Regions from separate parts of the Homo sapiens genome. Here all the other regions are linked to region 2. The links come from fine-mapping of genetic effects on gene expression. A gene starts in region 2. Each other region holds a variant in brackets. All regions are shown on one strand. Distances are between the middles of the regions.

Evidence for each region. PIP is the estimated chance that this variant, and not a neighbour inherited with it, causes the effect. A credible set is the group of variants that fine-mapping cannot tell apart.
Region 1: its variant is the best candidate, but not a certain one, in a credible set for the expression of RIC1 in whole blood (INTERVAL, PIP 0.69).
Region 3: its variant is the best candidate, but not a certain one, in a credible set for the expression of RIC1 in whole blood (INTERVAL, PIP 0.73).
Region 4: its variant is the best candidate, but not a certain one, in a credible set for the expression of RIC1 in tibial nerve (GTEx, PIP 0.88).
Region 5: its variant is the best candidate, but not a certain one, in a credible set for the expression of RIC1 in monocytes after R848 (Quach 2016, PIP 0.53).

The regions. Positions count from the first base shown.
Region 1 is chr9:5,935,043-5,941,235 of GRCh38, reverse strand. The region is part of intron 5 of BRD10 (bromodomain containing 10); the gene reads left to right. Among named protein-coding and RNA genes, the nearest start is that of MLANA, 47 kb to the right of the region's middle. The variant T/A (reference allele first, on the strand shown) is at 3,295.
Region 2 is chr9:5,625,578-5,631,770 of GRCh38, reverse strand. RIC1 (RIC1 partner of RAB6A GEF complex) reads right to left here and starts at 2,664. Exons shown (of 26, transcript NM_020829.4): 1 at 2,318-2,664. The coding sequence starts at 2,461. It overlaps INCR1 (interferon stimulated noncoding RNA 1), which reads left to right and starts at 2,044. Exons shown (of 3, transcript XR_007061406.1): 1 at 2,044-2,204. RefSeq lists enhancers at 1,844-2,344, 4,255-4,474 and a silencer at 2,365-2,904.
Region 3 is chr9:5,866,014-5,872,206 of GRCh38, reverse strand. It overlaps a transcript of ERMP1 not described here. Among named protein-coding and RNA genes, the nearest start is that of MLANA, 22 kb to the left of the region's middle. The variant C/T (reference allele first, on the strand shown) is at 3,120.
Region 4 is chr9:5,774,455-5,780,647 of GRCh38, reverse strand. RIC1 (RIC1 partner of RAB6A GEF complex) reads right to left here. Exons shown (of 26, transcript NM_020829.4): 26 at 4,091-6,193. Among named protein-coding and RNA genes, the nearest start is that of ERMP1, 56 kb to the left of the region's middle. The variant A/G (reference allele first, on the strand shown) is at 3,398.
Region 5 is chr9:5,745,448-5,751,640 of GRCh38, reverse strand. RIC1 (RIC1 partner of RAB6A GEF complex) reads right to left here. Exons shown (of 26, transcript NM_020829.4): 11 at 5,558-5,710; 12 at 4,136-4,339. Among named protein-coding and RNA genes, the nearest start is that of ERMP1, 85 kb to the left of the region's middle. The variant T/C (reference allele first, on the strand shown) is at 3,423.

The sequences.
Region 1 (6,193 bases), 310 kb before region 2:
ATATTGATAACTTTACCTGATCTTATTGTACTTGAAATTTGTTAGATAGTATTGCTTTCTAAATAATAAAAATTGGAAGATTTCGCCAAACTTATATTTCTAAGTTTTTCATATAATCCCCTTTTCCCTCATATTTGTTTAATGCCCTTTATGTTCTGTATCATAGTTCTGATTTTCAAAGAAGTTTCAGTCTTTTTCAATTAAGGAAAGACCCTTGTAGAGATTGGGTATGAGGAAAAGTGAAAATTTTGCAATAACTATGTTATTTATAAGGAAAAAAACCTCTTCTGGGTTATGTGATGATAAATGAAAGTCTTATAAATATTGATAATTAAATTTTAAATGTAAGACCACATCTTTTCTAATACATCTTTTATCAGATAAGCCCCTCAACATTGAGTAAGATCTAAGATTTTATTTATTTCTAAATTTTATAATCAATATGTAAGGAAAGCTATACATATTGAGCACAACCGCCTGTTTGCTTTGATCCTGTGATGATATTTGGAATTTAACTTTTCTCCCCATTTGTCCTCCCTACCCCCAAAAGTAATGTACACAATGGTGTATTTAGCAGACCACCCCTCGTAGTGGAAATTTGGAAAAAATCCATATGTCCAGCAGTAGCGAGGTGACTAACTAAACAATATTAACACACTGTTATATAGCTAGCAAAATTGGTAGATCATTTTTACAATACGGAAATATTTGTGAAATGTTAAGTTTTAAGAACATACACAATAGGCCAGGCGCGGTGGCTCACGCCTGTAATCCCAGCACTTTGGGAGGCCAAGGTGGGCGGATCACAAGGTTGGGAGTTCGAGACCAGCCTGGCTAACATGGTGAAACCCTGTCTCTACAAAAAATACAAAAATTAGCCAGGCTGTAGTGGCGCGTGCCTGTAATCCCAGCTACTCGGGAGGCTGAGGCAGGAGAATTGCTTGAACTAGGGAGGCAGAGGCTGCAGTGAGCCAAGATCGCACCACTGTGCTCAAGATTGTACCAGTGCACTCCAGCCTGGGCGACAGAGCAAGACTATCTCAAAACAAAAAGACATACAAAATAATATGTACATAATGATTACAGTATGTAAAAAGATATGTTAAAAAGAAAGAAATTTCAAGTAATGGATAAAATTAATCTTTATTATGTTCTTAAAATAAGGTAAATTCAGAATACAATAATAATACTTCTCTTACCTAACCAAAGGGTGTACATTAGCTAGACTGAATATTAGAGAAGTCAGAAGCTTAGATCAGAGATGCTAACTCCCCCAGTTTTTTGGTCACAGAGTTCTGTATAAGCCAGTGGTTATCAATCAGGAATGATTTTGCTCCCCTTCCCTAGGACACATTGATTGTCATAGTTGAAGAAGTGGCACTGGCATTTAATGGATTGAAACCAATGTTGCTGCTGAACATCCTACACTGTAATGATCCTACAGTGCACAGACATTTCTCCACAACAAAGAACTGTCTTGTCCCAAATGTCAGTTGTGCTGAGGTTGTAAAACCCTGGTAAAAGCCTGTATTTGCTAAGGGCCTTATTCTTTCATTCTGTCCACTGCTGCCAACTTACTTGGAGAGAAAACAAGTTGATGTTTTGAAAGTTAGGTAGAAATCACTGAAATCATAATACCAGATCCCATCATAGAGAGAATTCTATTACATAATATACTTCTAATTAAGACTTGTACTTGATGGAACTTGTGAATGTCTGTGTTAACCTTTACCTTTCGTGATTCCATCGATGATTAAGAAAGATTCTTGACCTTAGCTTCCCTTAGTATAGGAAATAAGTTACAAACAATATGGTTATATATGTATTTTCTTTATTCAGTTTTAGAAATATGATGTGATATGTTCTTAACTGAAGATATTGTAAGGAATGATAACATAAGTAAATGGAAAAATATTGACAAGTAATGTTATAAAATAATGTTATAAAACTACATATAATGTTATAAAACCACTTATTACACATGTAATAGTAGTGTTTTAATTATGTTATAAAACTACGTGTAATAAGTGGTTTTATAACATTAATAACGGCTTTCACTATATGAATACTGATATGAGGCAAAGAAATTATTGTGCATTAATCTTATTTTCTAACACCTGTAAAAAATAAATTTTATTCTATTCTATTGAAGGATAATGGAATTTTCCCTCTTCTCTCCATTTCATGTCCCATTTTCTCAGTAAGGTATCAAGTCAATATTTTTAATATTATTTTATAGCCAGCTGTTTAGAATACAAAATCTGTTGTACTACAGTATAAGGAGATTTAAGTATATTCAGAGTTCTCAGTAAGCCCTAATTACTTTACTTCATGGCTTTGGTTGTAATAATCTCTAAATTATTCTTAAAATTAGTTTTATTTAGGGTTTTAACAGTCACATCATGTGTACGATATATTTTTTATTCTAGATCTTCTGGTAAACTCGTTAATGGTTAACAAAACTGAAAACTATCTCAGCTGTGGGAGAAAATCAATCTACCTTTAAATAGTTACACTGTCTTTTAAAAATTAAAATGACCTTTTGGAAATGTTGCACAACAGATAAAATGTGCTTTTTACCTGCTTAGTTACAGATTCTAGCCTTATTTATTAGGTAACTATTTTCTGAATGTCTTCTATGTGCTGTGTATAGTACCAGGAACTTGGTAGGAATCCAGAGATTAAAACTAAGTTCCTATAGTCAAGGAATTCACTTACAGAGTAAGATTTTATCCTCAACCTGTGGGTTAAAATATTTATTTATTTTAATTTATTTTTATTATTTTTAAGATAGGGGCTCCTTGCTCTGTCACCCAGGCTGGAGTGCAATGGCACGATCATAGCTAGCTCACTGCAGCCTTGACCTTCTGGGCTTAAGTGATTCTCCCACCTCAGCCTTGAGAGAAGCTGGGACTAAAGGCTCAAACCACCACACCTGGCTAATTTTTGTATCTTTTGGAAGAGATAAGGTCTTGCTGTGTTACCCAGGCTGGTCTCAAACTCCTGGGCTCAATTGATCCTCCTGCCTTAGCCTCCCAAAGTGCTAAAATTTTTATTTTTAATTAGGGTTGGTTGGGCTAGCCCCTGTCCTTTTATAAAATATTTAATCTTTTATTTTCAAGCTGTTTATTCATAAGTCACCAGACACCATAGACATTTGCTCACTTCCCTTAATTACATGTTTATATTAATATGTTGTTTGGGAGTAGGGTAGAAGGGCAAATAACATGAATTTTATGGAGAATCAAATGTTAACTGACATGTTCAGAATAATAATGAAAAAGGGGACCTAGA[T/A]GATAGGAAATGTGAACCAGATATATATGACTGGTAAGGCAAACAAAGCTTCAGTTGACTGTAGTCACTGAATTATTTGAGAATGCATTATCTTCATTCATATTCTACTCTGCACAACTAAGAACTAGATTTTAACTTTGGTTTACAGTGCTCACTGTTTCTACTTACTGCAGTTTGGCTTGATGGTTTGAATCCCATCAGGGAAAGTTGCATGAAAACAATGTTTGAAAACCTCTCTCTTCCAAAGAAAGATTGTACATTGGTTTTACATCAGGCAGGGAGTTAATGCTGTATATTCCATTTATCCCAGCACAGAGTTGAGTTTCAGAGGAGTTGACCTAAGTACAGATCCTTCTGTAGTCAAGAGCTTTCTAGTGTTTCTTTTTCTTTTTATTTTCTTTTTTTTGTAAACGGAGTCTTGTTCATTTGCCTAGGCTGGAGTGCAGTGGCATGATCTCGGCTCACTGCAACCTCTGCCTCCCAGGTTCAAGCGATTCTCCTGCCTCAGCCTCCCTAGTAGCTGGGATTACAGGCATGTGCCACCACGCCCAGCTAATTTTTGTACTTTTAGTAGAGATGGTTTCACCATATTGGCCAGGCTGGTCTCGAACCCCTGACCTCAGGTGATCCACCCGCCTCGGCCTCCCAGAGTGCTGGGATTACAGGCTAGTGTGTCTTTTATAATTTGCTTTAAACCCTTTTTTTTTTTTTTTGAGGCAGAGTCTTGCTCTATCGCCCAGGCTAGAGTGTAGTGGCATGATCTCGGCTCACTGCAACCTGCGCCTCCGGGTTGAAGTGATTCTCCTGCCTCAGCCTCCTGAGCAGTTGGAACTACAGGCACGTGCCACCACACCCAGCATATTTTTGTATTTTTAATAGAGACAGGGGTTCACTATATTTGCCAGGCTGGTGTCGAACTCCTGACCTTGTGATCCACCCACCTCAGCCTCCCAAAGTGCTGGGATTACAGGCATGATTGCCACCGCACCTGGCCTAAACCTTTTTCAATCACGTATCACATACCCTTATTCAAATATAAGTAATTTAAATGTCAAACATTTTTCAAAGTCCCAATAAATTTGTATTGTCTTCTGTTTAACAGTTTGATTACTACCTTCCATGGTTCTGGAAAATTGAATTTAAATCTATGAAGGTTAAGGTAAAAAAATGAGCTTTACATCATTCTTAGTTTTTGTATTATAGAAGATATAAAAATCTTTGGAAAGACTTTAATTCAGTGCCTTTTGTGAGTTGGGAAATTATGTCAAAACTCAGTGGACTGAATATTAATAAAACTTTCTTAGCATCTTACTAGACTCTGTAGAAAAAGAAAAAAATTATACATCATATATTGAAGGAAAATTAACCCAGAATCCAGCAGAGAGCACAAAGGAGCCTAAATAGAGAGCACAAAGTACACATGTGGATGTTCCACTACTTTAAAATAGAAAGACCTTATGGGAAACCAGTTCTTTAAGATGTAATTCTAATAAGTAGTAGCAGCTGCTTTTAATTAGGACAGGAGATGTTTAAGGCAGATTTACTGACAGCATGAAACACTGATAAATTATTCATTTATTTGTTTTTGAGACAGGGTCTCACTCTGTCACCCAGGCAAGAGTGCAGTAGTGTGATTTTGGCTCACTGCAAACTCCACCTCCAGGCTCAAGCAGTCCTCCCACCTCAGCCTCCCCAGTAGCTGGGACTACAGGTGCACACTACCATGGCCGGCTAATCTTTGGATATTTTGTAGAGACAGGGTTTTGCCATGTTTCCCAGACTAGTCTCGAACTCTTTGGCTTAAGTGATTTACCTTCCTCTGCCTCCCAAAATGCTGCGACTATAAGCATAAGCCCCCATGCCCGGCTAATGAATAATTTTTTTAAAAAGCAATTGAAAAAAATAAGTAAAAGCAGGTCTTAGGAGTTTAAAACTAACAAAATAACTCGTTCATAATGATGACCCAAGTCATCAAGTTAGATTATATTCATTATATTGTCAGAAAATCTGAAAGACTTATACTTTAGGAACATTTTAATCAGTTTTTAAATAACCTTTTGTATCTAAGGAAGAAACCTCAGTTACATGAGAAATGTGCTTATGTAGTGGAACACTTAAAGTGGGCCTTTTCTGTCAGAGTTAGGCGTTGTGAGAGAATATGAAAAAATAAAAGTAAGTAGGATACTGTCCCTGCTTTTCAAATATTTCCCGTCTTAATTTCACTTACTTGGAACTTTTTATGCCCCTCTTATGCCAAATAAACATGCCATTACTTTGTGGTTTAGATTGTGCTGTGAATTGTTTGAGAACCCATCTTTCTGATAGCATATATGGATCTGTTAAAATATCATCAGTTTGTTGGCTTAATATCAATTTATTGAAAACAGTCAAATTCAGATACTCAACCAGTGGTTAATTTCTAGTCCACGGTTCATTCTTTGTAAATGAAAATGGTAGCACATTGTCTCTTAAATGTATATTGTTAGATTTTCTTCCCCGGTGATAGTGAACTACCTTACCAGGAATGTGACCTGTCACCCAGTTTTTCCCCCGCTACAAAGCTGGAAGACAGAGAAACTTGAAATGTTATCATTATTGTTATTGTTGTAGTTTGCCTTCATGCTTTCTATTTAAATGCTAATTTAGAAATATAATGGAAATGTTGGATATACTATTCAATGTATTCAGTGTGGGATGCCTTTAAAGTACAAACGCGTTCCTTTTCTCCTAGTCTTAAGTAAAAATTGGTAAGAGTATCAAGAGAAAATAATAGCATATATAATAGTTCATGTTAGAGCTTCTGTCAGTGTTAAAGTACTTTTTAACTTTTTTCATATTTATATGTATTATACTGTCAAAATAGCACTTTTTCAGGGACTGTGTACCAACATGATTAACA
Region 2 (6,193 bases):
ATATGTATCCCACTCACCTAGGCATGTAATCATACACCTTATAATCACTTGGTTCAATATTTGATTTTTTTTTTTTTTTTTTTTTGAGACAGAGTCTTGCTCTGTCGCCAGGCTGGAGTGCAGTGGTGGGATCTTGGCTCACTGCAACCTCTGCCTCTTGGGTTCAAGCGATTCTCCTGCCTCAGCCTCCCGAGTAGCTGGGGCTATAGGCGTGCACCACCACGCCCAGCTATTTTTTTGTATTTTTAGTAGAGACGGGATTTCACCATGTTGGCCAGGATGGTCTCGATCTCTTGACCTCGTGAATATCTGATTTTTTTCAGTGACAACAAAGCTGGTGCCCAGAGACCAAGGTTAACCACTCATACTACAGTACTATACAGCCTCCTCTAAGGTATTCCTGCATTTCATTTCACTCCAGACCTCTAAACCCATGGGTTCCCTACAGCCTAACTTTTGCACAACAGAACTTAATAGTAGGGGTCCCTGGACTTCTGTGGAAAAAGGAAGTTGCATGTGAGGTGGGAATTTGAAAGAAGAGTATGAATAGTTTAAATTCCAGAACTGCCTTGGATTTCTAGATGTCGTATGTAACTCCAAAACCAAACAATAGACATGCTTAAGAATATTCACAATGTCCCTAAATTAAAGCATATGTTTATGCTTCTCTTATGGGGGAATAAAGTGGTTTACAGGCTTCTGGTCAATTCATAGGTCATATTGTTTACTTTTATTTAAAATTAAGTTAGGTCTGCCTTTTTAAAGGTAAGAAAAGTTAAATTTTAGACGAAAGTCTAAATTTGTTACATTCAAAAGGAATTATGTATTAAATTCAAAAGACAATTTAAATTCAAGTTCTATTTTTTTCTGCATGTGCTTTAAAGTTGAGTTATATACACCTAAACAAATTAAAAATTATTCAACTGGCATATACATTGTAAACGAATATCTCATTTAGGAACCAGATGATACTTTATATATATTTACACATATGTTTATATATATACACACACACATACATACATATATATTCAAAATACAATCAGGCACTAGACAAAATAGTCATATTGTTGGTATTACGATTTTATAAGTTTGTTTTGTTCTGATTTGCATTTGAAAATTAGATCAGCCAAAACTTGATGGCAAATAGTCTGATTTACAGCCCAACTATGACAGTCAAAGGAGACACCAGAATTACCCGTCACTAAATCCCATCACCAGTATTACCAGGGAAGTGGGTGAGGACTGTCAAGGGCATTACAGGTAATGGAACAGCAACACACAAAGATTTGGGGATTTTAACAAACTAAAACCAGTATTTCACGAACACCTAATAAGGACAAGATCACAACCTATCCCCACATGGTCAAATTAACTTGGAAAGGAGAAAAACTTCACTCTGACATCGATTGGTACTGCCTTCTTTGGGGAGGAAAAAAAGCATTTTTATACTCTGAACTCTGTCGTTCTCATAGACAAAGTTATAGCAGTGTTTGCAGAGAGTAGGGAGTATCCCATCCACCACTTATTTCTTTCTCATATCTACTCAGTAATTCAATACAAGAAAGAAAAAGATAACCAGGACTTAAAGCAAAAACAGAATTCAGTTCCATGCTCCTCCCAAGCCTTATTATTTCCAGGTGTTATAACTGGGAGTTCCGCGGACAGATTTGAGTTCTACTTCCGCTCCTTTAACCCCCTATTCCGAAGAGTCCAAGAGCAGCAGCAAAGAAAAAGACCAACTCGAAAGTGGGGAAGGGATGTTGGGGTTAAAGAGGGGAGTTAAATAACCAGACCTTTAGTGAAGAATAAAGAATTCAGGCTGTAGTTTGTAGAAATAAGTTATTACAGGCCTGTAAAGTCTGGCGCTGGGTAAAGCCCAAGAGGCTTTCCCTAACTCCAAAACGGCGACCTTTAAAGTAAGGGAGGGTTGGGGCACCACAGCGGCCGGATTTCTAATTGTGGAAAGTTTAAACAAATTTGTCCCTCGGGGAATGGGGGAAGGGAGAGAAGAACAAGTCTGGGCTCGGCCGGGGAGCGTGCGGAGTCTGCACGCCGCGGCCGTCGGTCCAACGCGGGGAGGCTCAGGGATTTTCGGCAGCAGCGACTTCATCCACCCCGGACCGCCGGCTGGAGGACGTGCCTGCAGCCGGCGGGTACCTGCGGCCAATTCGGTGGAACGAGGACGCGGACTGCGAAGGCAGGTGGGTCTGGCACGAAGGGGCAGGAGTCCTAGGCTCTGGGTGGAAGTTGGGGGTGGGACGGCGCCGGGAGGCCGGGGAGGCAGCGGCGAAAGGCGGCGGGCGGCTCTACTTACTCGGCTGTACCAGATGCTGAGGCGGGCCGCGGCCAGCACGGCGAAGAAAGCCCTCTGCGGGTCGGACTGAACGTGGAAAGGCGCCTCGGCCGGGCTCCCCAGAGGGCACAGCAGCCTCTTGGGCCAGCCGCTCAGAAAATACATGGTCCGTGCGGAGCCCCCGGCGCCCCCAGTTGCGTCCGTCACACTCAGCGGCCCCGGGCTGGTCGCCCACCTCCCACACCGCCACCGGCCGAGTCGGCGGCGGCGGCGGCGGCAGCTCGGGGCATCTGCCCGCTGGCCTGGCCGGGCCGGGCCGACGCAAGGCTGCGCGACGAAGGCACCCCCAAGCTGACGGGGCCGAGTGTGGGGGAGGGAAGGGGAGGGAGAGTAGGGACACAGAGAGGGCGGGAGGAGCGCGGAGGCCCGCCCCGACCCCGCCCCTTCCTCAGGCCGCGCGGGCGTCACCACGCCGCGCCGCGTGGGTCGGGCCGGGGAGGGCCCGCGCGCGCGCTCTGGAGACTCCTGCGGTCTCCCTAGCTGTTTCTTGAAGCTCTGCATAAGCCTCGCCCGCGGCCGCCGGGTTGCGTCCGCACTTCTGCGCGCTGGCCCCTCCCTTGCTCCTCTCCCTAGCAGTCTCCAGGGTTTTACCGGGAGGACCTAGGCAACGGCCTGAGACTCCGAGGCAAGTGGGGCGAGTCTAGGGATAACGCAGCAGCAAGGCTACTGGGCCGGTGGAACACGCCCTGGCCTGGCCAAATTGGACCTCCCTTCCGGATTGGCGGGGTCTCGGTGGGGGCGGGCCGGTTGCCGGGGGGAGCTGGAGTCACGTGACGGCCGGCGCGGTTTCCCACTTTGGGCTGCCGGCCGCTGTGGCTGTGGTGGGCGGTAGGGGCTTTTACCGTGTGAGCTCCTTTAATGCCGGGGTCTGCAGTGAGAGCTGGTGATGAAGCTCCTGCCGGTGTGGAGCTTACATCCCTAAGGGAGCGTTTATTTAATCAGTAAATAAACCACTCACCATGAAAGTATTGAGTTCTGTCTCCTGCCTTTCAGGAGTTCTAAATCTATGTCTTTGAAATCCATTTCCATTCGTCTCAGCCTTACCAGCCATAACTTTAGATGAGAGGAGGCTATCTCTTTCGTGCTGCAAAAGGCTTGGACTTAGTTTTAGAACTGGAAGGGACTGGTGATAGCGTAGGTCCATATTTAGCTTTTGGACCCCAGGTATCACCTTAGCTGTAACTTTCAACGGATTGACCCAGTGGTAACGTCTGAATAGAAGGAGGGTTGAGGGGATATGGTGTGGAATGGGGGAAGGAGGAGTCTGAAATAGAAGAAAGATTTGCTTCTCATTGTCTACCTTTTTTAGTACAGTTTGAATTTTTCCATATGTTTGTATTACTTTTTCAATTAAAAAGCCAGGTTTAAAAAATGACCCCACATTAAAAAGTAGCAACGTAGGCGGGGTGCTGGGGCTCACGCCTGTAATCCCAGCATTTTGGGAGGCCGAGGCGGGCAGATCACTTTAGGTAAGCAGTTCGAGACCAGCCTGGCCAACATCGTGAAACCCCCGTCTTACTGAAAATACAAAAATTAGCTGGGCGTGGTGGCAGGTGCCTGTAATCCCAGTTCCTCAGGAGGCTAAGGCAGGAGAATCGCTTGAACCTGGGAGGCGGAAGTTGCAGCAAACCAAGATCCCTCCACTGCACTCCAGCCTGGGCAACAGAGTGAGACTGTCTCAAAAAAAAAAAAAAAAGTAGCAACATAAACAGAAAAAAGGAAACAAAGAAACTTAATTCATATTAGATATAGCATTGTAGCTGGTATTCATAACCAAATATGTAACTTTCTGTAATTTTTCTAAACATTCACTGCATTCCCTGGAAGGTGATGATAGAATCCTGTATTCCTCAAATGGAGGTTGAAACTGCCTCACCACTCACCAGCCTGTTGCGATCAGATTGTCTCCTTGGCGTCTACCCTCCCCCAGTCCAACACAGCAGCCTGGAACATAGTAAGCATAGTAAGCTGGCAGTATTTGTCAGACAAACCGTGGAGGAAACCCTGATCCAGCTGAGCTACACCATTAGACAAAGAGGCCCAGAGAGGTTTCTTAACTTGCCAATTTCAAATTGTAGAATAACAAAGTTGCATCATACTTTCATCTTAGATTCAGTTATGCACTTGGCAGAAAGAGGAAATGAAAATGTTCTAGTGCAGCAATTTTGCTGGCAGTGTTACTGAATGTTTGTCCCAGCTGTCTCTCAGAGAGTCTTTGTTCTCATGTGTCTCAAGTTTGTCATACTGTGCTCATGGGCAATTTAAGGAACTTCTAAGCAATTTTTATTGCACTCAATTTTAACCTTACTTGCTGACTTTAGAAGCTTATTCCTCTGCCACACTCCTGTGTAGCACTTAAGATTCACAAAATAATTCCAAATGCTTGTCTTGATTTAATTCATAGTAAACATTCAAGGTGAGTGACATTGGTGTGATGTTGTTATTCTCACTTTCTCAAGTGAGGAAACAGGACAGGTGTGGTAGATGTGCCTGAATTCACATGGCCTGAAAAGAACTGATGTTCTTTCTACAGATCCAGTGTGATTTCTTTCTTTTTTTTTTTTTTTGAGGTGGAGTTTCGCTCTTGTTGCCCAGGCTGGCGTGCAATGGTGCCATCTCAGCTCACTGCAGCCTCCACCTCCTGGGTTCAAGCAATTCTCCTGCCTCAGCCTCTGGAGTAGTTGGGATTACAGGCATGCACCAACATGCCTGGCTAATTTTGTATTTTTAGTAGAGACGAGGTTTCTCCATGTTGGTCAGGCTGATCTGGAACTCCCGACCTCAGGTGATCCGCTCACCTCGGCCTCCCAAAGTGCTGGGATTACAGGCGTGAGCCACCGCACCCAGCCTCCTGTGTGATTTTTTTAAAAATTTAAGGTTTGGCTGGGCGCGGTGGCTCATGCCTGTAATCCCAAAACTTTGGGAAGCCAAGGCAGGCGGATCATGAGGTCGGGAGTTTGAGACCAGCCTGGCCAATATGGTGAAACCCTGTCTTTCTGCTAAAAAAAAAAAAATACAAAAATTAGCCAGGCATGGTGATATGCACCTGTCATCCCAGCTACTCTGGAGGATAAGGCAGGAGAATTGCTTGAACCTGGGAGGCAGAGGTTGCGGTGAGCCGAGATCGCTCCACTGCACTCCAGGCTGGGTAACAGAGTGAGACTTTGTCTCAAAAAAAAAAAAAAAAATTAAGGCTTATGGCATCCCTGCATCAAGTAAGTCTATTGTTGCTGTTTTTCCAACAGCATATGCTCTTTAGGCTGAACTAAATTGTGGTAATTGCTCTGGACAGTGAGAGGGAGTGGGGGAAACCTCTAGGTCTTTCTCCCTGGCGGGGAGAAAAGGAAATATCTGACTCTCCAAAACCCTATACTTGAGAGTTCCCCTATTGTGACAAAAATGTTATTGGCTGGATTTTTCAACATCATTTCTTTTTCTTTCTTTCTTTTTTTTTTTTTTTTTGAGACAGAGCATTGCTTTGTCACCCAGGCTGGAGTGCAGTGGTGCAATCTTGGCTCACTGCAACCTCCGCCTCCCGGGTTCAAGTGATTCTTGTGCCTCAGCCTCCTGAGTAGCTGGGACTACAGGCATGCACCACCACGCCTGTCTAGTTTTTGTATTTTTAGTAGAGATGGGGTTTCATCATGTGCCAGGCTAGTCTCCAACTCCTAGCCTCAAATGATCCACCAGCCTCGGCCTCCCAAAGTGCTGGGATAACAGGTGTGAACCGCCGTGCCTGGCTTCAACTTTCAAATATCATATTTTAACTTTATTTTGTAAAATATACTGACAGTTCTCATGCCTTAGGTCTTCTCCTCCTTTTTCTACTAGTTTCCA
Region 3 (6,193 bases), 240 kb before region 2:
GGATTTTTCCCTCAGTCTTCACTCTGAGAACCTGGTAGAGCTCCAGAAGGTAAACTCACAAAAGTGTTTTACCTATAACTGGGTCCATGGGGCTCTTAACTCTCAGACTTGTCATTGCCAAGCCTCCAGCCATTCGTTTGTTAATCATAGAGCAGGTTTTTCCTGCAGTGACACTGGCTCTCAGAGGTTTCTGCTTGTGAGTTTCTGCTCCAGCAAGTTTGGATTCTCATTATCTGCCTGTCTGTCTCTAATTTGGGGGGCAGCAGTTTGTCCTGTGACCTCACTTCCTTGACAGATCTAGGACGAGTTATTTTTTCAGTTTGTTTAGCTTTTTCCTTGTTGCCAGGATGAAGTGATGACTTCCATGCCCTTTACATGCCAGACTGAAAACTGGAAGCCTCTTCTGCTCTTTGGAAGGATAATTTCTCGGTACAGGATCCTAGGCTGATGGTTCTTATTTTTTAACACTGTAAAAATTTCACCTTCTTCTTCTTCTTTTTTTGAGACGGAGTCTCGCTGTTGTCACCTAGGTTGGAGTGCAGTGGCACAATTCTCCTGCCTCAGCCTCTTGAGTAGCTGGGACTACAGGCACCCGGCACCACGCCCAGCTAATTTTTGTACTTTTAGTAGAGATGAGATTTTGCCATGTTGGCCAGGCTGGTCTCGAACACCTGACCTCAGGTGATCCGCCTGCCTTGGCCTCCCAAAGTGCTGGGATTACAGGCGTGAGCCACTACACCCAGCCTATTCTTTTTTTTTTTTTGAGACACAGTCTTGCTCTATTGCCCAGGCTGGAGCGCAATGGCATGATCTTGGGCTCACTGCAACCTCTGCCTCCCAAGTTCAAGCAATTCTCCTGCCTCAGCCTCCCAAGTAGCTGGGATTATAGGCACCCACCATCATGCCCGGCTGATTTTTGTATTTTTAGTAGAGATGGGGTTTCACCTTGTTGACCGGCTTGTCTCAAACTCCTGACCTCAGATGGTCCACTCGCCTCAGCCTCCCAAAGTGCTGGGATTACAGGTGTGAGCCACCACGCCTGGCCTCACCTTATTCTTGATTCTGATTATTCTTTATGTGTAACCATGGATAAGCCTTTTCTTCTCCCTGGGTCTCAATTCCTTTATTTGTAAGGTGGGTAGATCTGGTGGAAAGGGTTGAAATCTATGGTCTCCAAGGGTCCGTCCAGCTCTAATATTCTTTGATTCAATCATGCAACTATACAACAACCACACAGGGTTTGACGTTTCAGCTAATACCAGTCTGTGGCTACTGGTGTGAGCCTGTCACATGCCCTCCTGGCCCACTGCCAATCACAGCATGTTGTTGCTTAGAGAGGTCATGGTAGGCAGTCCTTGCAATGAAGTGTTCATCCATGTTTGGCCAGTCTTCAAAGAAATACCAACCCCTGAGAAAGCAGAAAGCCTACAACCTGAACGCTAATGCCTGTGCTCAAGAAGGAAACTTCAGTGGCAACAAAAAGCACAGCAAAACAGGGTCCCAGTGAAGCTCTTCTGAATTCAACAACGTTTGAAAGTACTCCATTCCCCTAGCAACTTTTTTTACTTAAAAAAAAGCAGGAGCTGTTTTTTAAAATGATATAAGAACATTATATCGAAGAAAGCAATACGATATTTTGTCAAATAGCAGTGGTATGATTGTGACTGTCATGTCTGATCAACTGATTCTAAGGAGAACTCTATCCTGTGCAGAATGCTGGCATGCTACTTAAAGCTGATTGAGAGGATGACATGCCCAGGACTGGCAAGAGCCCCCTGGTTTGGACTTCTCGCTTGATCCCAAAATATTCCATTTTTAACAGAGCAATTTGGCAATGTGTCTCAAAAGCCCTAAACATGTTCTTCTGTTCTGGATAGTGATGAAGAGTTGGACAGATATTTGGCTAGGACTCCCAGCCTTCTTCTACCACAGGTACAGGAGAAAGATGTGCACTAGGGACACTCTAGGCATCAGCACAGCATTTGTTATTGACTCGTTTTGGCCCCACATCTCTGTGTGAAAGCTTCAGGTTGTTGAGCTGGGCTGCACCTTATGGAAGCCCACAGTGCTAATTGTATACCTCTGAGCAACCCTCTACTGGCTGCCTTCACCCTTGTCCCCAAGGTCCATACTTGAATCTCTTTGTCCTAGAGGACTCACCAACCTGAAAGCAGGAAGAAACGGAGAGACAATCTAAAAGAATGTTCCTCCCTCAGGCCTCGAGCAAAACCAGAACAAAGGCTCCCACGCCCAGACTTTTCCACAGCATGGGCAGGTAGCGCCCCTAGTGGGAGGCAGCAGCCCCAAGTCCATCTTGCCACCTCATCTTCTTAGAAAACAACATCCAAAAGGCCATGAGCCTTCCCTTTCTCCAGGAACTAGTATCTCCTTTTTCTGAGAGCACTGTCCTGCCCCAACTCCTTGAGGTCAAAGTGGAAGTTTCATATTCTTTGAGAACCTGCCCTCCCATGGGGTTATTTGGTTGGTCCAGGGCCAGCTGTATCCTGCCCTTCCCATGGTTTGGTCAAATGCCCTTCTTTTGATTACAGAAGATATTTCAGGATTCTTCCAATTGACTCTCCCTTTTGCTACAGTCATTTGAGACAGGTTTCTAAGATGGCAGGTCAGGAGGCTAGAGAACAGAATCCCCAAAAGTGGGAAGCTAGAGAGAGAGGCCCCCATGTGGACACTAGCATTTCCAACCTACCATCACTGACACCCTCACCTTTTACCACCATGTCCTGAGAATGATTTTGCATCTGTTCCATTAACTTCACTCCTTCTCCTCCTCATTCCCAAGGGGCCCTGAAAGGGGAGCTTTAAGTCCTTCCTAAGGGCAGAAGCAAAACCTCAGTAGCCAGTCCATGTCAGGATTTCAACCTCAGGACATAATCAGAGGTGTGCACACATATTGAAGTACAAGTGATCTAGGGCTGCATTCCTGTAGCTGTAAAAACAATTGAAAATAACCTAATAATATTTCAAAGAATTATGGTCCATCCATCCAACAGAATGCTTTGCAGCTGTTAAAAATATTTTTAAGGAATATTTAATGACATGGAAAAATGCTTATAATATACCAAAAGCAGGCCAGGAACAGTGGCTCACCCTTGTAATTC[C/T]AGCACTTTGGGAGGCCAAGGCAGGAGGAGTGCTTGCGCCCAGGAGTTCAAGATCAGCCTGGGTAAGATAGTGAGATCCTAGCTCTACAAAAAATTTCAAAAATTAGCTAAGCATGATGGCACACACCTGTTATCTCTGCTACTCAGGAGGCTGAGGTGGGAGGATTGCTGAAGCCCAGGAGGTCAAGGCAGTGAATCATGATCGTACCGCTGCACTCCAGGCTTGCTGTCAGAGTGAGACCCTGTCTCAAGAATAAATAAATAATAAATAAAAGAAATAATATACCAAATTCAGAATATACAATTTAATGTACTTTATAACCTAAATTGTGTCAAGTTATATATTATATACACATAAACAGCCAAAAAGAACCACATAAAAATGATAATTCTACTTTCTTCATTACGTTTTCTATGTTTTCTAATTGTTTATGATTAGCATGGTTTACTGCGGTATTTATTTGGTATTATGTTTTGGCATAATATTTTATATTAAGTAATGAATGATATTGAAAAGATCAGAACCTTATTAGAGCATGTCTTCCTATGGAAAAATCAGATTTCCTTCTCTGCTGTTTGCGCTTAGCCTTTACCAGAGGGTCATGTGACCAGCAGTAACTGTGAGGCCCGGTTTTCTGCCACGATATTCCCTCCAGAGTACGTGCTCTCGGGTTGTCTGAATCCCTGGAATGCTGGGCCAGTTGCCTCAGCGGGGGCTGCCGTTCTAACCCCCAGGGCAGGGTTGTTTCTTTAGCTGGCTGGTGGCTTTTGGTACCAAACAAGTAACTTTCCTTTCCCGTGAACTTGTCTGCAGTCCCAAACGACTTAGGGTAACTCTGCTGACCCTGTTACCTGCTTTATTCCAGCTTTTGTTCCAGCTAAGGTGGGGAGCCTATAGATTCCTGGGGTCCCACAGAGGTGACATAGCAATGAGAGAGCTGGTGATGTCTCATATTCATGACACAACTTTGCCTGGATTCACAAGTGTGGCTACATAGGGAGCACAGAGACCAAGGGTTGAGGAGCCAAGGTTCTTGGCCTCCCTCCTGCCATCTGACTATCTGAGCTTGAACAAGCCTTTCTGAAGCTCTCTGCCACCTGTCTACAAGTGTAAACTGTGATCCAGGGAAACAATATCTCAGATACCTTTTCTGACCTAAATTGTCTCTCCTATTCATTCCATAGTGTGTGCCTAATAATAAGAGCAAACCCCTGCCACATGCCAGATGCAGTTCTAAACACTTCATACAAATGGACTCCTTTAATCTTCAAAACAAGACTGAGAGGTTGGTACTGTTATCATCATCATCATCATCATCATCATTCCTTTTTCATCAGATGAGGAAACTTAGGCAAAGGGGGACTCAGTAACACGGCCAGGTGCCACAGCCGGGATGTGGAGAGACAGGGATTCCAACCCAGCTGAACTGGCTCTGAAATCTAGACCATGAACCACTCTGCTCCACTGCCTCTCAGTCATGTGAATTTCAGCTCACCCTGTCTTTATTTCAAACTTGGCCAGAGGTGGTCAGTCAGCCACAGTGACACGCTGGCAAAACTGCAAAGTGAGTGATGCCCACCTCCCCTATCCTCTAGCTGCTCAAGGTCGGCCTTTGGGGTCACTGCTGTATAATTCTACTTCTTCCCAACCATGCAAGGATGGCAGAGGCCTCCCCCTGCCTCCTAGACCTACTAAGACAAGGCAATGGCTGTGGGCTTCCCCACCCTCTTGGCCCCATCTTCTGAAGAAGAAATAAGAAAGTACTGTTTTCCTGGTTTTTCAGAAAATAAGAAATATAATACTCATTTAATGAGCATACTCTGCACATGTTATACATACAAATTAACTCATTTGGTTTTCAAACAAGACCCCCCCACTCCCCCGTTTTTCCAAGACAGAGTCTTGCTCTGTTGCCCAGGCTGGAGCGTAGTGGTGTAATCATGGCCTACTGCAGCCTTGACCTCCTCGGCTCAAGTGATCCTCCTGTGTCAGCCTGCCAAGTAGCCAGGACTATAGGTGTGCGCCAGCATGCTCAGGTAATTTTTAAATTTTCTTGTAGAGATGGGGTCTCACCATGTTGCTCAAACTCCTGGGTTCAAGCAATCCTTCTGCCTCAGCCTCCCAAAGTGCTGGGATTATAGGCATGAGCCACTGTGCCTGGCCTCAAACAACCCATTCTTATTACCAGTCCCATTTTACAGATGAGGCCAATGAGGCTCAGGGAGCTTGTGTAACTTGCCTGAGGGCTCACGAATAGAAAAGGAACAGGAAGCACAGCACTAATATACATACCTTGCTCTTTGCCCATCCCCACCCTCTCTTCCCACAGCTGGGTCATCATCTGACCCTCTCATCGCCACTCAGATTTTTGAAAAAACTTTTATAATACTATTAATTCAAATCAAGTACTTTGGGTTTGAAGACCTTCTGTTCAAATTTGATTACAGGTTTCCTTAGTTTCCCATGCCTCCAGTTCTATGAAATTACAAGTTCATCTGTTCTTGACCTAAATCAGTCTTTTGGAGTGGTTGAGAGGGAGGTGAGATAATCTGTGTACAAGTGATTTCAAAAGCATCAAGTGAGCTACCAATTCTGGGCTGTTTGTCATAGTCTGCATATTAATAGCATTCTCGCACAGCCCCCAGGCTGTGTGGAGGAGCAGCTCTGTTTGTATATATCCAAACAGTAGGATCCAACAATCCTCTGCCTACTTATCCTCTCCCCACTATTGTTGGATCCTATGGTTTGGGTATGTTGTTTGGATAATATTGGTTCTGTTCCCCGAAACAGAAGAAATATTATCCAAACAATATATCCTGTTCGATCTAGAAATCAAAGAGGTAACTAGTAATAGTTCTACAAACAATATAGTCCCAACACCAATGGAAACTGGTGTAAGAGAGGGGCTCATCTGCAATTTACCCCCCAAAATGGAAGTGTATTATGTGTAATAGCACACCTACGTGTTTAAAATCTGCTTTTATTCATTTATATTCTACCGTACAACAATCACATAATGATAAAGTGTTCACAATTATTTGATTAAAAAATTATTATTAAAAGTAACACACTT
Region 4 (6,193 bases), 150 kb before region 2:
CCTTCTGAAGCTTACTTCTGTCAATTTGTCAAACTCATTCTCTGTCCAGTTCTGTTCCCTTGCTGGCAAGGAGTTGTGATCCTTTGGAGGAGAAGAGGTGATCTGCTTTTTGGAATTTTCAGCCTTTTTTTGCTGTTTTTTCCTCATCTTCGTGGATTTATCTACCTTTGAAGTTGGTGACCTTCAGCTGGGTTCTCTTGAGTGGACGTCCTTTTTGTTGATGTTGATAGTATTCCTTTCTGTTTGGTGGTTTTCCTTCTTAACATTCAGGCCCTCTGCTGCAGGTTGGCTGGAGTTGACTTGAGGTCCAGTCCAGACCCTGTTTGCCTGGGTATCACTGGTGAAGGCTGCAGAACAGCAAAGATTGCTGCCTGTTCCTTCCTCTGGAAGCTTCGTCCTACAGGGGTACCCGCCAGATGCCAGCTAGAGCTCTCCTGTATGAGGTGTCTGTTGGCACCTACTGGGAGGACCCACTTGAGGAGTTAATCTGTCCTTTATCAGAGCTCCAATGCTGTGCTGGGAGATCTGCTGCTCTCTTCAGAGCTGCCAGGCAGGGACGTTTAAGTAAGTCTGCTGAAGCTGCGCCCACAACTGCCCTTTGTCCAAAGTGCTCTGTCCCAGGGAGGTGGGGGTTTTATCTGTTAGTCCCTGACTGGGGCTGCTGCCTTTTTTTCAGAGTTGCCCTGCCCAGAGAGGAGGGAATCTAGAGAGGCAGTCTGGCTGCAGTTGCCTTGCTGAACTGCAGTGGGCTCCGCCCATTTTGAACTTCCCAGTGGCTTTGTTTACACTGTGAGGGTAAAACTGCCTACTCAAGCCTCAGCAATGGTGGACGCCCCTCCCCCCATGTTGGAGCATCCCAGGTCAAGCTCAGACTGCTGTGCCAGCAGCAAGAATTTCAAGCCAGTGGATCTTAGCTTGCTGGGCTCTGTGGGGGTGGGACCCACCGAACCAGACCACTTGGCTCCCTGGCTTCAGCCCCCTTTCCAGGGGAGTGAATGGTTCTGACTGGTGTTTCAGGTGCCACTGGGGTATGAAAAAAAAAAACTGCGGCTAGCTTTGTGTCTGCCCAAAACAGCCATCCAGTTTTGTACTGGAAACCCAGGGCCCTGGTGGCGTGGGCACTGGAGGGAATCTCCTGGTCTGCGGGTTGCAAAGACTGTGGGAAAAGCACAGTATCTGGGCTGGATTGCAAGATACAGTCCCTAACAGTCCCTAATGGCTTCCCTTGGCTGGGAGAAGGAGTTCCCCGACCCCTTGCGCTTCCCAGGTGAGGCAACGAACTACCCTGGCTTTGGCTTACCCTCACAGGGCTGCACCCACTGTCCAACCAGTCCCAGTGAGATGAACCAGGTACCTCAGCTGGAAATGCAGAAATCACCCGCCTTCTGTGTCGATCTCGCTGGGAGCTGCAGACCAGAGCTGTTCCTATTCAGCCATCTTGCCAGCAATCCCAGTTATGGCTCTTAATGTCTGTTTTTAGTTTAAATACGTAGGGATTTTTGGAGTGTATCAGTGTATTTTTTGACACTTCTACTTCCATATTTGACTTGTAAAAACATAACATGTTGGTAATAATTTTTTTTTTCCTCCAGTTTGGCTCTACAGCATGACCAAATGGAATTTATGCCAGGAATGCAAGGTTGGTTTAACAGAAAGTTGGCCAGGTGCAGTGGCACATGCTTAATTTCAGCACTTTGGGAGGCCAAGGTGGGTGGATTGCTTAAGCCCAGGAGTTTGAGACTGGCCTGGACAACATGGCAAAACCCTGACTCTACTAAAAACACAACATTTAGCAGGGCATGGTGGTGTGTGCCTGTGGGCCCAGCTACTATAGAAACTGAGGTAGGAGGATGGCTTGAGCTCAGGAGGTTGAGGCTGCAGCAAGCCATGACTGCGCCACTTCCTTCCAGCATGGGTGACAGAGCAAAACTCTGTCTTAAAACAAAAACATTTGAAAATCAGTGTAATGTACCATATTAATAGAATAAAGGATAAAAACCACATGACTACTTCAGTAGATGCAATGTATGTTTGTTGAGTGTTTTTATCATGGAAGGGATTTGGATTTTTGTAAAAGACAAACTATACAGAAGGCAACATCCTCAACCAGATAAAGCTTATCAATAAAAAACCCACAGCTAGCATCATAATTAGTGATGAGAGAAAGCTTCTCCCTAAGATCAGAAGACAAGGATATCCACTATTGCCACCTAATAAGCATTGTACTAGTGGCTCTAGCCAGGACCGTTTGGCAGGAGAAAGAAAGAAAAGGCATCCAGATTGAAAAGGAAGAGTTCAAACTATCTCTGGTTGCAAACAACATGACCTTCAATGTAGAAAATCCTAAGGAATCCACAAAAAAGAAAAAGTTTGATGTTGCATGATGCAATGTCAATATACAGAAGCAATTGTATTTATATACACAATCCAAAAACAGGAAATTCCATTTTTTTTACAGTAGCAATACTTAGAAATAAATCTAACAAAAGTATGAGACTTAGCAAAAATTATAATCCACTGTTAAAAGACATTAAAAACCCAATAAATGGAAAGACATCTCATGTTCATGGACTGGAAGGCTTAATATGGCAATATTCTCCACATTTGCTTTATGTCATGAATACAACGCTTATGAAAATCCCAACTGCCTTTATTTTAGTATAGAAATTGACAAGCTGATCCTGCAATTCATATGGAAATACAAGGGACCTAGAATAGCCAAAACAACCTAGAAAAAACAAACTTAGGACTCTCGCTTTCAAAATTTCCTACAAAGCAACAGAAATCAAGGCAATGTGGTATTGGCATAAGAAGATATTATAGATCATTAGAATACAATTAAGAATCTATAAATAAACCCATACCTCTATAGTTGATTTTTGACAATGGGAAAAAAATCCTTTCCATAAATGGTGCTCTGACAATTGAATAGCCACGTTAGAAGAACGAAGTCAGATCTCTCTTTCATATCATATATGAAAATTAACTCAAAATGGATCAAAGACCTAAATGTAGGAGATATAACTATAAAATTCTTAAAACTTAGTCGTAAATATTCATAACCCTGGATTAGGCACAAGCAACCAAAGAAAAAATAAGTTGGACTTAAAAACAGTGTTTCAAAGGACATTATGGAGAAAGTGAAATGATTCAGAGTCCGTGTGATTGTAATCACATGCTGACAACACTCAGTCTAAGTCAGACTTCTGTTGTATTCTCACCACTCAATTTGTTTTTTTTTTTTAGCAGTATTTAATGGGTACATTTTAGAGTCTTCCATTTTGTGTGGAATTAGATCCTCCCCTTCAAATGCTGTAATTAACATTACTTAAAAAAAAAAACTTGAATATTGAAACCTAAAAAAGTGAAAAGCCCACAGAATGAAGAAATAGTTGCA[A/G]TTTATATGTACATAAAAGAGTAGTATCCAGAATATATAAAGAACTCCAGCAAGTCAACAATGAAACGACCTAATTAAACAGACATTTTTCTTCAAAAATAGACAAATGGCTAATAATCCTACGAGAAGATTTACATTAACCATTAGGTAAATGAAAATCTAAACTATGATGAGACACTACTTCATATACAACTTGGATGGCTACAGCCAAAATAACAACATGCTTTGGTGCCAAGAAGTGAGATAGAAAAGTTCACATACTATATGTTTCCATTTATATGAAATGTCCAGAATAGGCAAATCCATGGAGACTGAAATTAGGAAAATGGGAAAAAGTCAAAGTACTTTTTAATCCCGCTTATTAGAAATGACGCCTAGGTTCCTCTATACTTACATGTAAAATTTTGTTTGCTTGGTAGGTATCTTAAGGTATACATAATTTTCTGTCATTCCTTCATTATATTTTGAACATTTTCCATGTCATCGACATGGGCTGTTTCCTCCAGTATTTTACTGTCAGGCATCTAGGATGTTGCGAACTCTTGATGCTGTCATTCTAAATCTACATATAAATAAATATTTTAAATAAATCTGTCTGAATTTCATTTCATAAGGAAAATTCTAAGAAGCAGAATTATATAATGAAAAGATGATTTTCGTGGCTGTTAACCTGAGATGATGAATAAACCAAAGTTTGTGTAATGGTTTTATTGCCCTTTACCAAGGGGAGAAAAATACACATTACAGAAATAGCAGCAACTTTAATTACAAGCAAAGGTTGATTTTATTCCCACACCCCCAATGACTTGTTTTGGTTTCAGCAAATAATTTATTAATAAATGCATCTAGTAAACCTCAAATAGTTATACTGAATATTTAAATTCATTGGCTAAAATTATGGCTTAAACAGTTGATATGTGAACCAAACACCACAATAAAAATGGGTTTTTAAAAATTAAGGTATATAACAAATAAATTACCAAATTTTCTGTAAACCTGCCAAACTTCTTGCCTGGGGGCCTCCTATCTCTATTAGTTGTAAAAGAATATTGTATAAAAGAAATGATTCATTCACGGCCTAACCCACAGGAATACAGTTAACTTATACTGGTGCCCTGCTTTCAAGAATGTTTGAGATGAACTCAGCAGCACAGTGTTTTATTTCAGATACTTGAAAAGATCACAGCTCTTTATAATGGTAAATCATTTTTATTGACTGAATATTCACACCAAACACAAAAGCAATGCTGGTTCTTCTCCTTAATGGACTAGGATAGGAGAAGAGAGTTCAGTTTAGTTTCTTGCTGGGCTGCATGTACTCACATGCAAAACATTATCTTTAAGATTCAGGGAAAGGTGGTTTGAAACAAAGACTTAAATAAAAATAGCACCAGAAGGACCAGGTACCAATAATCACATACTCCACCCATTCGGGAGTTTCATTTTGTGAAATATTATTGCACTTGTAATGTAAAAAGTAAATGATAGTAAATTACCCAACTCAGTAATTTTAAATACTTCGATGTATTCTGAACTAAGCAGTTTCAAAATGGTTTTGAGTTTCTCTTCAAAGGAAACCTGGCTAAGACAACTAAATCTAGCCATTTACTTTAAAAAGCAAGGAGAGAGGACCAAGTTTTGTTTCTAAACTACAACTGCACTATGAGAAAAGAGGCTATTTTAGATAGTGGTACGAATTTGGTCCACATCAAATACATCGTTATTATAAAAATAAACAAGTTTGTTTTTTGTAAAAAATAACATTGCATTCCTTGTTCAAATTGCACAGTACAAACAAGCTGTCTTAATACTGTTATAAGGTAATTAGAATTACATACAGTGGATGGGTGTTTAAAGCAATTAAGGAGTATGCAGTTGTTTTCATAATGTATGAAAACAAATTTAAGTCATTTCTAGAAGTACATAAAATACTTTAAGTTTACAATGAAGAATGCATTCTTTACACACTAATTTTTAGTAGCCGTGGTAATACAGGATTCAGCAGTCTATTTACATAGAAGTCCATCTTTATTCAATTTACAAAAGCAATAAATAAGAGACTATGTTAATTTGCACAAAACTTGCTGCATTTCATGATCAGTGTGACCATTTCTGTTACTTCATGACCAAGCCAATAAACCTGTCTTCCTCAGTTTTGCAGAGGAGCAAGCCCTGTCTTTGTATGTGTAGACATGCAGAATCCAGCATTAAAACCTTGCAAATTATAATACAAGCCCTAAAATATGAACAGTGCCTTTGAATATATTTACACAAGAGTATTCACAAAAAGATACTGTTCTTTAATACAAAATAGTTTAGTGGTATCTAACAGCAAAATTGAGAAGAACCCCCTCAGACCTCTGCCCACATTGGTCTAATGGGAATCAAGCTTGCTAAAACAAGCACATTAACTCACAGGTAAATAGCTTCCATCAATTCTGGACTGGGATTTGACTGGCTAGTAAAGCCAAGGAGAATGTTTCCATCACACTGGCACATATTGTGCCCCAGGGTAGCAATCTATTCAGGAGGACTGATTAAAGAGTCCAGCTGTATCCAAGGGAGCAAACAGGTAGCTCAAGTACCTGACAGACTATAGCAAGCACCTTAGCATTTATTTTTTAAAAAGCAATCTGGACATAATGCAGAACCGGGAAATGTGAGAAGATGTAAGTAGTGAAAAAGTAAGCTCACCTGGGGCAAAACAATTCCTGTGGTTTAAGAGCTACCAACCTTTGAGTAAAACCAAAATATTCTCATGTACATCTGTACAATATTTACTTTTCACTGCAGCTT
Region 5 (6,193 bases), 120 kb before region 2:
GCTCATGCCTGTAATCCCAGCACTTTGGGAGGCTGAGGCAGGCAGATTGCCTGAGGTCAGGAGTTTGAGACCAGCCCGGCCAGCATGGTGAAACCCGTCTCTACTAAAAATACAAAAATTAGCCAGGCGTGATGGCAGGTGCCGGCAATCCCAGCTACTCGGGAAGCTGACGCAGGAGAATCACCTGAACCCTGGAGGCGGAGGTTGCAGTGAGCCGAGATTGCACCACTGCACTCCAGCCTGGGCAACAGAGTGAGACTCTGTCTCCCTGCCCCCCAGACCCCCAAAAAGATCACTATGATGGGTAAAATTAGTTCAGAATAATGGTACACTTAAGGTAATGATTGGGTGGTGAAATAAAACTTGAAAGCATTTTCAACTTTTTTCAGCAGTCACTCACAGCAGGAGGATGTACCTGAGTATAACTGTGTCAATCATCCATTGCACTAAAAGGAATCCTTACCTCCCTCAAACCTTGGTGTTTCATGAGTACTTATGAAACGTGTGGGTGGGTAATGGAGGAGCTGGGATCTTACTGCAAAAGTGGATTCTAACACAAAGAGTTTCTAATAATGGGAACCAAAGTTAAATCTTATCAAATGATCACACTATGATCAATATCTATAAAACAATTTATTCTTTATTCTACAAAAATCTATGAAGTGCCACAAATGATGTATTTTAAAAACTTAAGGTGTTAAGTTTAGAATGAAGCTTTATTTTTCATGCAGTTTGTGTCTAAAGATACTATGTATTTTCTCCAGTAGGTCAACTTTATTGATCTATGTGTCATCTGAACTCTGAGCTCTACCTCTAATACTTGATAAAAGGGAATGGCAGAAGTAAGGAAGAGGCAGCTGATCAGTGACAAAAAAAACAGGTCATGAAAGCACACTCAGGGCACTGAAGTCATGCCACATCACTGGAAAACTGAGTGCTAAGGTACAGAAACTCTACCCTTATCTTAGAATGTTTCAGTTTCTCTTAAAGAAACTGAATCCGCCCTCATTTGTTATTATGATTTTTAAATTTTAAAGTAACTCTGCTAAAACTCTGTCTCCTGCCTAGATTAGTTTTGTCTATAACTAGTGAGACTGTGGGAGCCATCCTCCTAGCAGATTTGTTCTGTGCCAAATACCTGGTACACTTGATACATACTGTAGGAAGACAGTAAATAATTTATGAATGAAAGAGCCTTTAAATACTCTCTGTTGAAATCCCTAACATAGTGCCTGATACCCTGTAGGTGCTTATCTTCCACATTTTGTGAAGCTTATTCTTTCTAAATAGCCAAGCTAACCATCAAACCAACACCCTCAGAACAATGGATAATAGATTTATGTACCTTTCAGAAGTAAATGCTTACATCATACAAAATACTGAGCATTAAAATAAATGGCAGTCTTAGAAGGAACATGGCCTAAAACTAGAAACTTTGTGTTCTGTAAAATTTCAATAGTTTGTGCCCCATATGTCAACAAATGACTTCAAAAGTTTTAAAACTTATAGGTAAGAAAAAACTTTTTAAAAAGCACCTTGGCTGGTGCTTGCTGGTGCTTGCTTTGGCTGGGTGCGGTGGCTCACGCCTGTAATCCCAGTACTTTGGGAGGCTGAGGCAGGTGGATCACAAGGTCAGGAGTTTGAGACCAGCCTGGCCAACATGGTGAAACCCCGTCTCTACTAAAAATACAAAAATTAGCCGGGCATGGTGGCAGGTGCCTGTAATCCCAGCTACTTGGGAGGCTGAGACAGCAGAATCGCTTGAACCCTGGAGGTGGAGGTTGCAGTGAGCTGAGATCACGCCACTGCACTCCAGCCTGGGCAACAAAGAACAAAATTCAATCTCAAAAAAAAAAAAAAAAAAAAAAAAAAAAAAGCACCGCCTTTACTGCCAGTTACCAATCCTGCTTCTGACAAGTATGTATTTGTTTTGTTTTAGTTAAAGAAAAATCATAAGTAACATAGAATCTTCCAATCTGGAAGCTAAGGAGTATAAGGTAGCAGGTTTAAGCAAACAAACAAAAAGCTAGTACTCTAAATGAGAAACAGAACAAGCAGCAGAATTAGTTGGAGTTCATCTAAGCTATACAAGAAGCATACATACAACGAATAAATCACGCAAACAAAATCAACTTTGACAGAGGATGTGGTCACTTATCTTAGAAAAAAGGATACTATTGTGGGGCAAATTAAACCAGGCAACTATGTTTCTTCAGGGAGTCATCATAAATGGCTAAAAAGCCTAGAACGTAAAAGTTTAGCATTATATAGACACTGTATACTGCCCTATACACCGCCACCATAACTGCACTGAATCATGTAGCTGGAGTGCCAGCGAAATACAGGGCAACTCCAAGTACAAACTGCCAAATAGGCGAATTCTAAGTTTTAGCTCAAGGTCAGTGGTGTATTATGTGATTTAATGCTCAGTACCTCGGTTTTAAAATACATTAGATTTTTACTTTAACGTAGAGTGATGATAAAGATAAGTCTGCCACTACTCTGCTGGGTGAACTGGACAAGTCATATAACTTCTCTGATCCTCAGTTTCCTCATGTATCAAATCCAGTTGGACTTTATGATCTCTTAGGTCCTTCCAGCTTGAAAAATTCTATGAGCCCATTTTCATTGTTTCAGCAGTACAAAACAATCAATGTGGCATTATTTATGTTATTTTTAAGGAAACTGATAAACTAGGTAAACTCAAGTTTTAAAAGTTCATCTGTCTAAATATCTTTAGCTATCTAAAGAACAGAATAACAGTGGAATCTTGCTAGTACCCAAAGTCCTAAAATCAGTGTTAAAATGTTTCTCTTATATGGGGTACTTCATAGATGCTTAAGAATCACAGAATCACTGAGTTTTTGAGCTGGAAGGAAATTCAATTTTTGTTATTGCCTGATCGATTTTTTAGTTCCAGACCTACCTTCTTTGATCCTCTGCTCTACTTGGCTCTCTGGTAACACAGACCTGGCTAGGCAGAACTGGCATTGATGCTAGGTCAGTGTAGAATGAATAGTTCAAAGTATGGGGAAATGAAAATAGCAGAGAAATGGCTATAGGAGAGAAGGGAGCAGTGGAAAATTTTAGTCAAGGAAGTAGCTAGTGCAGTTTTATTTAAAAATTGTTACTAATTATAAAATGGTATGTACATTGTTTGATTCTATGAATTTATTAATGTAAGTTAAGTTCATTTTCTTTTAGTGTATACCAGATGTCAATGTAGGAGATAATCCTTCAACCTTTCACATGACCATTTTTTTGTCTCTCATTATCTTCACTCAAAGTCAACTGAAAATAACATGGGAGCTGAAGTAGGCTAGTAGGGTAAACATATAGAGAGTCAAAGTAAGGCAAAGAATTATGGAAACAGAAACTGACTAAAAGAAACTAAGAGTGGGCTTTGATGTACCTAAAATATT[T/C]TGCTATCAAAAAGGGAAAGAAAACAGTCGGAAGACTGAAATTATGTATGCAAGTTTCTTTTAAGAAACTTCAACTTACTGGTTTCCCCAAAATAATTTTACTTGGTATCAAAATTGAGAATTAATTTCCATGTTAAATGTCAGTTTATCAGAATTACTGTGAGACACTGTTAATTTAAAAGTGATATCAGAATGAATAAATAATTTGGAATAAGATTAGCTAATAAAAGTATTAACAATAAAGCTCTCTACTGATCACAAGTCTGCAATTTGGGTCCAAAGTCACATGATTAACCTCAACGTGGCCCCTTAAGACTGTAAGGTCAGCTGTACAGAGTACTAGCTGATGTTGCCACTTTCCATGAGATTATTACACTTTGTTTTGCCTGTGCAAATCCGTAGAGCTAAATTTATACAAAAAAAGAGGCTGAAAGTAAAATAAATAGTTCTCAATGAGAAGGCAAAACATAAACTTCTAGTTCTTGACATTATTAATAGACTTGAAACAGGTGGGGATACACTCTACGCCAAGTGGAAAGAAAGGAGGGAGAAGACTAGAGGACAAGAACACAGAAAAGCAGAAGAGGGACATGACAAAATGGTTAAAAGGATTCTCAGTTGCCTGAAGTTAACAGATGAAATATTTAATAATCTGTTCCAGGTGATATCCTATCAAAGAATAAGTCTCTAGTAATCAGTAACTAAAGATTTACCTGTACAACATGCCAATGCCGATGTCCAAGTAAAGTGCTTAATCCCTGAGACTCTAAACCTCCATCTGCAAATGGGCTCTTTTCTCGACTGGGCTTATGCTCAGAGTGTGTTGAAGAACTCCTGGGATTCTGGGTTTGTGAAGCCTCTCCACAGTTCAAGTACAAGCGATCCTCACCCTGAAGCAACACCTGCTCTTGGTTACTCTAAATGAGGGAAAGAGGAACAAAAGGGCAAAGGAGGAAAACAAATAAAAACAACTCAATATTACGCAGGCAAAAATAACACATCGATTTAGTTTTATTATAGGAAATGTACATGTATCTCGATGTTGATTTTCTTCACAGAGGACAAAGACTACACAATAATCTCATGCACTGTTATAATTAGAAAGAATAGTGCTCTTAGTGACTATGAGATTTCAGCTAGAAAGCCAGTGTTCTCAAAGGTGAGTAGACTCATTAACTATTGAAATCAGACAAAGTAGCACCCTACCCTTGTCATTTTTCCATTTTAGTCCAAATGCTGGCTTGACATAAAACTCAAGGGTGCTTTTAAATTATTATTTGGGATGGGGAAGGGGAGGGAGAAATGCTCTCTTCTTTTCTGGGGATCCTTAGTCTTCAAGTGGAATAATGGATCTGAAATTCAGGCTATTTTCACATTTTTTATGGATGTTCGTAAATTTTAATTAGAAATTTGTTGTACCAAATATCCATTAAAAAGCCATTGATGGTAGGTATTAAGATACACATTTCTAACATGTAACATATACCATTACTGTATATTAGCGATATATAATAATATTAGTATACACTATTTCAGATAGAAATACAAGAGGCAGTGTTTGGGGCGGTGTTTCTAAAAGCAAGTCCTCAGACATACTTTCTTTAAGCTATTTCTTAAAAATTCACAGTTAAATAAGCATGGGGAACACTGTTTTTAATATACCACCTCCTGGATTTTCATGATGCACAATGGCATATTTAAGCCTCTGGAGCCCTACAATCAATCTCTACAATTTTGTTTTACCTTTATTTGACACTTATATGGAAACAAAACTTTTAAAAAATCCTGTGGAACTGCTACTAATATCTCTCATAAGTAGTGCCTGGAGGAACACACTTTGGGAAATGCTATTCAGATAAAGACTAAATTACTCAAATTATTTAAATAAATATATAAACATTGCTTTCCGTCAAATTGCTTATGACCCTTTTAAAAAAATAAGACCAAAGAAACACAACCCGTTGAGAAATAAAATTTTGGTATAAATTTAATATAAATTAAAAAGAAACACAAGAATCATAGAAAAGAAGATAATATGCCAATTTTAGAAGTATACGCCATACATATGTCATAAAGAAGGGTCTGAGCTTCTAACACAAAAGACACTAAAAAATCAGAGCTTTAAATATACTTACCATACAAGGGTTTACAGTGAGTACACTCTTAATAAACTGAAATAACAGGATGCTGGGCTGTTTAACTACACTCCTGAGGTCAGACTCAATTTCAGTGTTTTGAGAACCAAATCCGCTGATTACCCATAGGTGATAGCCTTCTGCACCCCAGCTCTTAGAGAGAAGAGGAGGGAGAAAAAAAGTCAGAGCAATAAAAGGCTTTTGTATCCCTTTCTAGCTTCAATTATTCAAATTCTGAAATAGCCAATGATAGCATTATTAATGATTTGTGAAGGTTGGAGAAACCGTGATAACACAGACAAGAATCACACCTTCAGTTACCTCTTAACTAACTCCAGAGGAAATCACCATCACTGCTCTCTATCTGCAAAAGTGAAAACATTACCTACCATTCTTAATGCCAATTTCAGGGTCTTAATCCTAAAAATACCTACTGTGCTCTGTAACTTCTCTATTGCTTTAATTTAGCTGCCTCTCAAATACAAAGAAATTCCTTACAGAAGACACCCCAGGTTACCCAGTAGAAGCCTGGCAAAGAAGCCCCTACAACAGATGCAGTTTTGTATGGAGCAAAAAACATTGGATTGGAAGCTGTGAGACTAGAGTCTTCATTATAGCTTGGCTTTTTGTATATAT